Linked DNA regions of Homo sapiens. The protein of the gene in region 3 interacts with the protein of the main gene of each other region in a pairwise test. Each region holds a gene or a part of one and is shown on either strand. Other genes may lie near its edges. The genes, in order: PLIN2, MIEF1 and HTATIP2.

Region 1 (3,652 bases), on a different chromosome or scaffold from region 3:
GGGCAAAAGATGCTGTGACGACTACTGTGACTGGGGCCAAGGATTCTGTGGCCAGCACGATCACAGGGGTGATGGACAAGACCAAAGGGGCAGTGACTGGCAGTGTGGAGAAGACCAAGTCTGTGGTCAGTGGCAGCATTAACACAGTCTTGGGGAGTCGGATGATGCAGCTCGTGAGCAGTGGCGTAGAAAATGCACTCACCAAATCAGAGCTGTTGGTAGAACAGTACCTCCCTCTCACTGAGGAAGAACTAGGTAACTGGAATTTTATCTTGAAATACTGTTTTATATTAAATCTTTCTTAAACAGCTTCATTGACATATACTCTCATCTTGAGTCTAAATTTACACAGTTGTGCAAGCATCACTGCAATCCAGTTTCAGAACACTTCTGCTACCCCAAAAGATCCTCATGCCTGTTTGCAGTCAGTCCTTTTTAATTTAATTTAATTTTATAGAGATGGGATCTCACTATGTTGCCCAGGCTGATCTCGAACTCCTGGGCTCAAACGATCCACCTGCCTTGACCTCCCAAAGTTCTGGGATTACAGATGTGAGCAACCACTAATCTTTTTGCCTCTATAGATTTTCCTTCCTAAAGCAATCATAAAGTTCACATTGAATCGTACGTAGTAAGTTTTGAAACCTTAGCAAAAATTGGCCTTGAAAAATATTTTCTGTAAATGGATAGTCTTTAATGGATTGCTTTATAAAATCCTCCTTACAAAGAATCATCATTAGGTAATGTGTGCCAGGTACCATGCCGCTCAAGTTCACTCTAGGCTGGGAGCAATGGTGCATGCATGCCTACAATCCCAGCACTTTGGGAGGCTAAGACAGGCAGATCGCTTGAGTTCAGGAGTTTGAGATTAGCCTGGGCAACATGGCGAAACCCTAAAAAACACAAAAATTAGCTGGGCATGGTGGCTTGTTCCTAGAGTCCTAGCTACTCGGGAGGCTGAGGTGAGAGGATCAGTTGAGCTCGGGAGGTTGAGGCTGCAGTGAGCCAAAATTGTGCCACTGTACTCCAGCCTGGGCAACAAAGCAAGACCTGTTTCCAAAAAAAAAAAAGCAGTTTACTCTAGTGGGAGAAACGTGTAGATGCATGCAGTGTGTATCAGATACAGTAATATGTTCAGGGTAGTCAAGTCCAGCAGCAGACGTGAGCAGTCTTGGAAAAATGACTGCATGATTGCTAAGTGATTGGGTAGAAGTAAGAAAGTCAAGACCCAGGTTAGAGTCCAGGCCTTATCACTTGTCACTGTGATCCCTTAAGTTTTTTTGTCTCTTATTTCTAACTTCAGAAAAAGAAGCAAAAAAAGTTGAAGGATTTGATCTGGTTCAGAAGCCAAGTTATTATGTTAGACTGGGATCCCTGTCTACCAAGCTTCACTCCCGTGCCTACCAGCAGGCTCTCAGCAGGGTTAAAGAAGCTAAGCAAAAAAGCCAACAGACCATTTCTCAGCTCCATTCTACTGTTCACCTGGTGAGTAAAACTTTATTTTAAGGTGTCTGAAGTGGGTTCATTTATCTCTAGGCCCAAGAATTAAATGTAATCACAAAATCCAAGAATTTCATTCTTAGTTGACAAACAACCCAATAGAAAACTGGACAAAGAATATGGAGACAGCTCACAGAAAAAGGAAGTATAACTAGTTGAAATATAGGAAGCAATGCTAATCTCGCTCTGAGGGGTCAAATACTGACATCTCTCTTGTCCTGCCACACGGGAAATGTGGCTGTTGGCAACGGTGTAGAGAAAGAACCACACTTGTGCAGCTCTTGCTCTAAGGGACTGATTCAAGAGACAGTTTTAGTAAAGTTACAAGCATACCTACACTTGGAGCTGTTTTACTTTTTATCTTACAGATGTGTATATTTGTTTAAAGTTGCAAGAGACTATAACAATGCACATCCACTAACAGGACTAATTAAATTGATATATCACAATAGACTACTGTGTAGCCATTAAAGGTTTCCAAGTTAAAGAACAGTATGTACCATTCTGTACTGCCATGAGAAAACCATTTCTTCTTAGAAGGGGAAATAGTGGTTGGCAACAGGGAAGAGGAAGGTCAAATTCCTTTCTGTTTTGTAATGCTAACTTATCCTTTACTCATGTACACATTAAATTTTAGTTGCTGGCTGGGCGTGGTGGCTCATGCCTATAATCCCAGCACTTTAGGAGGGCAAGGTGGTTGGATCACCTGAGGTCAGGAGTTCGAGACCAGTCTGGCCAACAAGGTGAAATCCTGTCTCTACTAAAAATACAAAAATTAGCTGGGCATGGTGGCGTATGCCTGTAATCCCAGCTACTCGGTAGGCTAAGGCACGAGAAGGAGGTTCAGTGAGCTGTGATCGCGCCACTGTACTTCAGCCTGGGTGACAGAGTGACACTCAAAAAAAATTTTTTGTAGTTTTTTAGTTGCTTTACCTGTGCTAAACTGGAAGTAAATGTGGAGTCAGTGATTTAATAGTTAAATAGAGGCAGTAAAGAGCTACTACTGCTTGGTTAATTTACACATATTGATAATAAATAATAATGATAGCAGGAATAGATCTTATTCAACTCCAGGAAATTCTTAGTTTTTATGTTGCCTGATTTACATCATACATCTGCAAACAGGCTAACGTGAATATCTGACTTGTGTGTTCCTTTGTCTTGTTTCAATGTGTCTAGATTGAATTTGCCAGGAAGAATGTGTATAGTGCCAATCAGAAAATTCAGGATGCTCAGGATAAGCTCTACCTCTCATGGGTAGAGTGGAAAAGGAGCATTGGATATGATGATACTGATGAGTCCCACTGTGCTGAGGTAAGATGACTGGGACGGTCATTTGTTGGTTGCTGAAGAAGTTCTTATCAGACTTTTCATTTCAATTTTTCCATACTATGTCTTAGAATACTCTTCTCTATCAAAAGGTTGAACAATACCATGTACATAGGTGGCTAGTTATGTGGCAGAAAAGCAAAACTAGGCAGCGAATAATTTTATCTAACAACCTATGAGTATACATATGCCCCAAGTGAGATACAACTAAATGAGAAACACAGGCCTTGCCCTCATAATGGGTACAGACTAACAGGGGATACAGCCAGCCATGCTGTCCTATTTTGTGCCTTTTTAATGCTCCTTGCAGAAGAGGGCTATCTCATAGGCAGTACACTCAGAGTAGCCAAGTCCGGTTGTTGTTTAACGGCATAAATACAGGTACTATTGGCTGGGCGCGATGGCTCACGCCTGTAATCCCAACACTTTGGGAGGCCGAGGCGGGTAGATCACGAGGTCAGGAGATCGAGACCATCCTGGCCAACATGGTGAAACCCTGTCTCTACTAAAAATACAAAAAATGAGCCAGGCATGGTGGCACGTGCCTGTAGTCCCAGCTACTCGGGCAGCTGAGGCAGGAGAATAGCTTGAACCTGGGAGGCAGAGGTTGCCATGAGCCGAGATCATGCTACTGCACTCCAGCCTGGGCAACAGAGTAAGACTCTGTCTCAAAAAAAAAAAAAAGAAAACATATGGGAAGACTATCTCAGGCAGCCTTGGAGTGGGGGTAGTTGAGTCACATTGCTTTCTGGAAGAGATGAATGGTAAGCTGAGAACTAATGGGTGAATAAACTAGGTGAAAGGGCAATAAGGTGACCAAGGT
Region 2 (3,652 bases), on a different chromosome or scaffold from region 3:
TGAAGCCTCTATTGACTGTAAATGGTAGAGAAAAGGAAAGTACCCCCAAGGTGTGAACTCTAGTTAGGGAAAAAAATATTTTTGGGCTTGACAGTGACTCTTAGTTAACTCAATTACTGGAATAATAGAGTCAGAAATATTTCTTTGTTTTTCAGGGAGGTAGAGGCAGGAGCGTAAGATGTGGAAGCTAGAAATATCCACTTGTAACACGGTATTAGAAGGAATGTTATTTTACATGGAAGATAATCCTCAGTGATCCTTTTTTTTTTTTCTTCAAGACGGAGTCTTGCTCTGTCACCCAGGCTGGAGTGCAATGGTGATTCTCCTGCCTTGGCCTCCCGAGTAGCTGGGATTACAGGCATGCACCATCATGCCTGGCTAATTTTTTGTATTTTTAGTAGAGATGGGGTTTCACTATGTTGGCCAGGCTGGTCTTGAACTTCCGACCTCGTGATCCACCCACCTTGGCCTCCCAAAGTGCTGGGATTACAGGTGTGAGCCACCGCGCCCGGCTGATCCTGTCTCTTGATGTCCTCCCATTCTGGGACGCTAAATGGTATCCGACTTTGTTTTCCCTTATGTCATTCCTGGTGTGAAGGACACGGGATATTATAGAGGAGAGTGGCAGCATGCTGAGTGGTATTCCGATCTGAATCACACTGTCATCCTTTATCCGGCTCAGGCCCAGGGTTCTAACTCCACAGGAATGGGCTTATCTGGGGACTGCTGCTGCTGCAGTCAGGAAGACTCCACTGTAGTCGGGAGCAGCACTGGCCTGAGCACTGCACTGGAGGCCAGCCTCTTCGCTGTGGTGCCCAAGTACTTCTTTCAGGTGAACACATTTTTAGTTCCTCTTCCAGGTGTAATCGAGCAGATGGGTGTTTTGTTTTCCAGTTAGCAGTCGAGTCTGCAGTGTCCTTTGTGTTTTTTATCTCCCGGTATACCAGTCTCACCTAAGCTTTTATAGTCCCCGCTGCGCACTTCTCTCAAGAAACAAAGCATTTGTCAAGTAGGAGGGTCCATGGAGGGACCTTTCTCACATATGGACGTGTAGTTTCAGTTCCGTGTGCAGGATGTTTGGTACATGTTGTTTTGTGTTTTGTTTGCAGAAAGTAGATAGAATAAGGGCCGATTTGATTTGGGTAAGGGTGAGCATGGTACAGTAGAAAAAGCGTCATACAAGGAGTGGGGAGTCCTGAGTTCTGGAGATGACTGTGTCGTTTTGTTTTCGTTTTTGAGACGGAGTTTAGCTCTTGTTACCCAGGCTAGAGTGCAATCGTGTGATCTCGGCTCACTGCAACCTCCGCCTTCCGGGTTCAAGGGATTCTCCTGTCTCAGCCTCCTGAGAAGCTGGGATTACAGGCATGCGCTGTCACATCTGGCTAATTTTATATTTTTAGTAGTGACGGGGTTTCTCCATGTTGGCCAGGCTTGTCTTGAACTCCTGATCTCAGGTGATCCGCCTGCCTCGGCCTCCCAAAGTGCTGGGATTACAGGCGTGAGTCACCGTGCCCGGCCCATTTTGTTTTTTTATTTTTATTTTTAAGAGATGGGGTCTCACTCTGTCACTGAGGCTAGAGTGCAGTGGCGTGATCATAGCTCACTGTAGCCTCAAACTCCTGGGCTCAAGCATTCCTCCTGCCTCAGCCTCCTAAGTAGATAGGACTACAGGCATGTGCCACCATGCTCAATTTATTTTTATCTTTTACTTTTGGAGATGGGGGTCTTGCCATGTTGCTCAGGTTGGTCTTGAACTTCTGGCCACAAGCGATCTTCCCACCTCAGCCTCCCGGGTAGCTAGGATTATAGGCATGAGCCACTGCGCCTGTACCATTTCTTTTCTCTGAGACCTGACACATCACCTCCCTATGTTGAGAACCTCTGTGTGAGGTGATGTGATGGCATTAGATGAGCTCCAAGGTCCCGCTCAGATCTAACCTTCCACAAAGTAGTGGCCAAAGGACGAAGAAATGACCTGCATTATAACCCCTGTGATGGGGTAGAGAGACCTGCTTTATAACCTCTGTGAAGGGGTAGAGAGACCTGCATTATAACCCCTGTGAAGGGGTAGAGACCTGCATTATAACCCCTGTGAAGGGGTAGAGACCTGCTTTATAACCCCTGTGAAGGGGTAGAGACCTGCATTATAACCCCTGTGAAGGGGTAGAGACCTGCATTATAACATTGTGAAGGGGTAGAGACCTGCATTTTAACATTGTAAAGGGGCAGAGAGAGGGCTGTTTTGCATGGTGGGGTACTTCATTGTAATACAAAAAAGGACTGACACTGAGCTTAATGCTTTCTTAATCTCACTAGCTTGGGGAAAGTTTTCCTACAATACCCAAGATCAGCCCCTCCTCCTTGCATCCTGATCTATCATGGGACATTGTAGCTCCCTCCAGACCCTAAAGCATGCAGTGCTGGAGGCAAGAAGATTTGGGTTGCTGGAACTCACAGAGTACCCTGTACTTGTTGGGGTTTGGCTTGTTAGGGGAGGGAGGTTCTTGGGGTCCCAGTACTTATGGCCGTGTTCTGTCTTCATTCTCAGATGAGCAATGGCAGGCGCTGGTGAGCGCAAAGGCAAGAAGGATGACAATGGCATTGGCACGGCCATTGACTTTGTGCTCTCCAATGCCCGGCTGGTGCTGGGGGTGGGTGGAGCGGCCATGCTGGGCATCGCCACGCTGGCAGTTAAGCGGGTAAGTGCATGCAGCCAGGGCTGGGGGTGGAATGTAGTGGTATGGTCATAAGATGTAATGTTTTATAGAAAGAAAATGTCGAAGCGTTCTAGGAGGAAATGATCGCAATGATAAGTGAAAAAAACAGGTTTCAAAAGTATGTATAGAGTGATCGTCATTACATGCATCTAGAAAGAAACATACCAGATATTACAAACAGTTTTCTCTGGGTCATGACGTGGATTATCTATGTCTTATATCATGTAGTCTTCCCTGAGATTTTCTGCGTGGAGCAAAGTATTCTATAATCTAAAATAAAAACAAAATTACTAAAAGAACTTACTAGGACAGAGCTTCTGGGGAGGAAGTAAATTGGAAGGAAATAGGGAAAGAGGGCAGGTTTATGTCCTGTGTCCTCTCTGCTATTTCAGATGTACGATCGGGCGATCAGTGCCCCTACCAGCCCCACCCGCCTGAGCCATTCGGGGAAAAGGAGCTGGGAAGAACCCAACTGGATGGGCTCCCCACGACTGCTGAACAGGGACATGAAGACGGGCCTGAGCCGGTCCTTGCAGACCCTTCCCACAGACTCCTCCACCTTCGACACAGGTGAGAAGGGCTGCTGCCCCTCCTGGGACCTCTCTGGACTTTCAGTACCACTCCTGCACTCAGCAGATGTTTCCTGAGCACATCTGTGCCAGGCACTGTGCCAGCACTTGCCCTCCATGCCAGGCCCTTCTTTCTGGGGCTGAGGCAGCTGTGGACTGAGCAGGCATGGGCAGAGCTCACGTGCCTCTCTCTCTTGCCTTGGCAGATACATTCTGCCCGCCCCGGCCCAAGCCAGTGGCCAGGAAGGGCCAGGTAGACTTGAAGAAGTCACGACTCCGCATGTCCCTGCAGGAGAAACTTCTTACTTACTACCGGAACCGGGCAGCCATCCCTGCTGGAGAGCAGGCTCGGGCCAAGCAAGCTGC
Region 3 (3,652 bases):
TTGTGAATAACTAACCTGTCATTAAAATCAGAGTTCTGATAAACTGGCATGAGGGGAAGAAACAGATGTGGAAGAAAAATTTAGTGTCTTAGAATTTTTCTATGTAGTTTTGGGCTGTTTCTCTTGGCACACTTTCAGCACATCTAAAGTCTCCATTTGGAGAATGGCTCTGAGGGTAATCACTTCTCTCAGGATGTGCTGAGTACTTAAATTGGTTTGCTTTACACTAATTTTAAAAGCAACTGCATGAATTTGAGTCGGTATATAGACAGCTTGGCAAGTCCGTTGTTCAGGACTGAGTGTCAAAGTATACAACAAAAAGTATACAAAAGGAGATGGTGATGACTCGTGAGTAAAGAGGTAAGTTTATATTACCCACAAACTAAGGTAGAAAAAGTAAGGCAGAAAAATAACACTGTCCTCCAGGTGGTGGATATAGTTAAAAATGTACTTGTGAGTGATGGGAAAGGAGGATGAGGAAGGCTTTTACAGTAATGGTAATGTTCTATTTCTTGATCTTGGAACTGGTGGCAGAGCATGTTCAGTTTATGAAAATTTATTGAGCTCTATACTTATGTTTACTTTTATGATACACTTCCATACAAAGTTAAAAAATCTGCATGGGCGTATTGTTTTAAAATTGAATTCTGTATTAGTTTCCTATTGCTGCTTTAATAAATTCCTCAAATTTAGCAGCTTAAGACAACACAAATTTATCATCTTAGAAGTCTGACACGGGTTTACCTGAGATAAAATCAAGGTGTTGACAGAGCTGCATTCCTTTCTGGGAGGCTGTAGGACAGAAACCATTTCCATACGTTTTTCAGCTTCTAGAGGCCACCCCCATTCCTTGGCCTGTGGTCCCCTTACCATCCTTAAGGCCAGCAATGTGGTAGCTGAGCCCTTCTTAGGTTGCATTACTCCAGCCTGCTCTTCTGCCTCGTTCTTTTACTTTTAAGGGCCCTTGTGATTACATTGGGCCCACATGGATAATTCAAACTAATCTCTCTGTTTCAAGGCCAGCTGATTAGCACCCTAATTCTAAACACTGAATTTCTAAAACACTGAATTTCCCTTCCACATCTATTTCTTCCCCTCATGCCAGTTCACTAGAACTCTGATTTTAATAATGTGTTTGTTACAACAAAATGACACAGTTGACTGGTGAAATAAATTCAGTTTTTTTGTTGTTGTTGTTTTAGCATGATTCATCTTGCTTCTGCCTAAATACCATCTGTGATGGAATTCCCCCTTGTCATGTAACATGACATATTCACAAAGATTAGGACGTGGGCATCTTTGAGGGACCATTATTCTGCCTACCACAATCACGGATTAGTCATTTTCATTAGCGAGAGAGGGTGGGGGATAAAAAAGGAACATGGGTACAGTGAAAAGAGCACTGCTCAGAGTCCAGAATCTGCACTCTGCTCTCGGCTCTCCCACTTCCCAGCTAACAGTTCACCCGCCCACTGGACCTTGGTTCCTGTCTATATCATGAGGGGACTGGATGTGATATTTCCTAAGGTACCTTCTAACATTCTGTGAAAGATACACATCGCCCTACCAAATAGAACATTTAGAATCAGTAACTACTGAGGAGCAAATTTTTTAATTAAAAAAAAAAATCAGGCCGGGCGCGGTGGCTCACACCTGTAATCCCAGCACTTTGGAAGGCCAAGGTGGGCGGGTCATCTGAGGTCAGGAGTTCAAGACCAGCCTCGCTAACGTGGTGAAACCCTGTCTCTACTAAAATACAAAAATTAGCCGGACATGGTGACATGTGTCTATAATCCCAGCTACTTGGGAGGCTGAGGCAGGAGAATCACTTGAACTCAGGAGGCAGAGGTTGTGGTGAGTGGAGACCACGCCACTGCCCTCCAGCCTGGGCAACAGAGCAAGACTGTCTCAATCAATCAATCACTGGGGCAGTAGTCCAGTCTTCAGATTTGGAATTCCTACTACTCTAAGACCTCATTCTGTAATTGTGACTACCTATAAAGTTCAGCTTCAATAGACTTTAGACTTGTCTTCAGCTGTCTTGGGTTTGAAGATGCCAGAATTTATGGTGGTCTCAAGAGACTGTTACTCCTTGGAATTCCCTTTTCTGGGTAAAGGTGCATGCTTTTCAGTTAGGCCCTGGAAGTGAGTCTATATTCTGTTATTTGTGTCATTCTCTTCCCTCCCCCTTTTATTGCCACTTAGTTCTGTTTGTTTCTGACTGGATTTACCTTTTCTCTGCTTTCATTGGCGTTTTGTTCATTCATTTTTGGAGCATCTACCATATGCTGGACATGTGCTGATGCTGAGAGATGAATTAAGAAAAAAGACCCAGCCACTGCCTTCACTGGACTGAATCTAGATTGGGTGTCTCCAAACACTTTTGACTAGAGACCCATTAATAAAAACGTTTGAGGATGCATTCTTTACTAATGTGTGAGGTACATTGTAGAGCATACACAAAAATTGGGAATTAAATAGACTTTGTTCTCTTAGTGCCTGGGGAGTGTCCTCACCCATACTCGGAGACCCTACCACATTAGAATTGACACAGAAAACAGGAGTGTAAAGTTGTGAAGTTATTAAGACAAAAAAAAAAGTCTGGCTTAAAAGTAGTTTCTCAGCCTGATCTTACTGTTCCCTTTGTTCTTTGCAGATTTGTTTGGTGTCTGTGTTTCAATGTCATTGTCCTTGTTTCCTTATTGCAGTCCAGTCTTGCTGCTAAAGCTGGTGTGCCTATCCAGAGGACCAGACCTGGAGCCTTTCCCAGGGTCTAAGCCTGACTTTCATGTATTGCTTGGACACATTTTATTTAGATCTCCATCCTTCTAGGCCTCCCAGCCTGCTACCCAAGCCAAGTAGTAATCTTTAAGATGAACTTGCTGCTTTTTGGAAATAACTCATGTCCTTTTCCCCCTTAGGAGGGATTTGTTCGTGTTGACCGAGATTATGTGCTGAAGTCTGCAGAGCTGGCAAAAGCTGGAGGGTGCAAACATTTCAACTTGCTATCCTCTAAAGGAGCTGATAAATCAAGCAATTTTTTATATCTACAAGTTAAGGTTTGTGCAAGTTTCTGTTTTTCATACACTTTGGAGAACCCTAGCTATTTGGCAGTACTAAAGAATATAAAATATTATATAATACAAAAACCATCAAATGCATCATATTATGCATTTGTATGGCTACGGGACTGCAGGAATATATTTAGTAAACAGGAATGATTGGAAAGGTAATTTCCAATGTCTTCCTCTCTATTAATTATCCAGCAACAAATGGAATGAGATATGGCATCTCCAGCCTTGACTGTCAGCATGGCAGCTTAGCATTGGAAGAGACTTGGAGGCAGTGATTCTTAAACTTTTCCGTCAGTCTCCCTAATGACTGAGCGGAAAGAAGAGCTTTTATTTGTGTAGAGATTTGGAGAAATCTATCCTGAAGCAGTATTCTAGTTACAGACTCAACTTTCTTTTCTTTTTTTTTTTTTTGAGACAGGTTCCCAGGCTGGAGTGCAGTGGCATGATCTTGGCTCGCTGCAGCCTCTGCCCCGCCAAGTAACTGGGACTAGAGGCATGAGCCACCATGCCTGGCTAATTTTTGTATTTTTGGTAGAGATGGGGTTTTGCCATGTTGCCCAGGCTGGTCTCAAACTCCT

Evidence for each region.
Region 1: the proteins of HTATIP2 (region 3) and PLIN2 interact in binary tests that used the Homo sapiens proteins (3 or more experiments, as listed by UniProt).
Region 2: the proteins of HTATIP2 (region 3) and MIEF1 interact in binary tests that used the Homo sapiens proteins (3 or more experiments, as listed by UniProt).

Annotation. Positions count from the first base shown.
Region 1 is NC_000009.12:19,117,483-19,121,134, reverse strand, and holds part of PLIN2 (perilipin-2), read left to right. Parts: coding exon 1-255; intron 256-1,303; coding exon 1,304-1,485; intron 1,486-2,679; coding exon 2,680-2,814; intron 2,815-3,652. UniProt on the Homo sapiens protein: Structural component of lipid droplets, which is required for the formation and maintenance of lipid storage droplets.
Region 2 is NC_000022.11:39,508,740-39,512,391, forward strand, and holds part of MIEF1 (mitochondrial dynamics protein MIEF1), read left to right. Parts: intron 1-682; exon of another isoform or gene 683-832; intron 833-2,548; 5' UTR 2,549-2,555; coding exon 2,556-2,699; intron 2,700-3,109; coding exon 3,110-3,287; intron 3,288-3,492; coding exon 3,493-3,652. UniProt on the Homo sapiens protein: Mitochondrial outer membrane protein which regulates mitochondrial fission/fusion dynamics.
Region 3 is NC_000011.10:20,373,659-20,377,310, forward strand, and holds part of HTATIP2 (protein HTATIP2), read left to right. Parts: intron 1-2,921; coding exon 2,922-3,059; intron 3,060-3,652. UniProt on the Homo sapiens protein: Represses translation by preventing reactivation of elongation factor eEF1A. May also inhibit nuclear import by competing with nuclear import substrates for binding to a subset of nuclear transport receptors.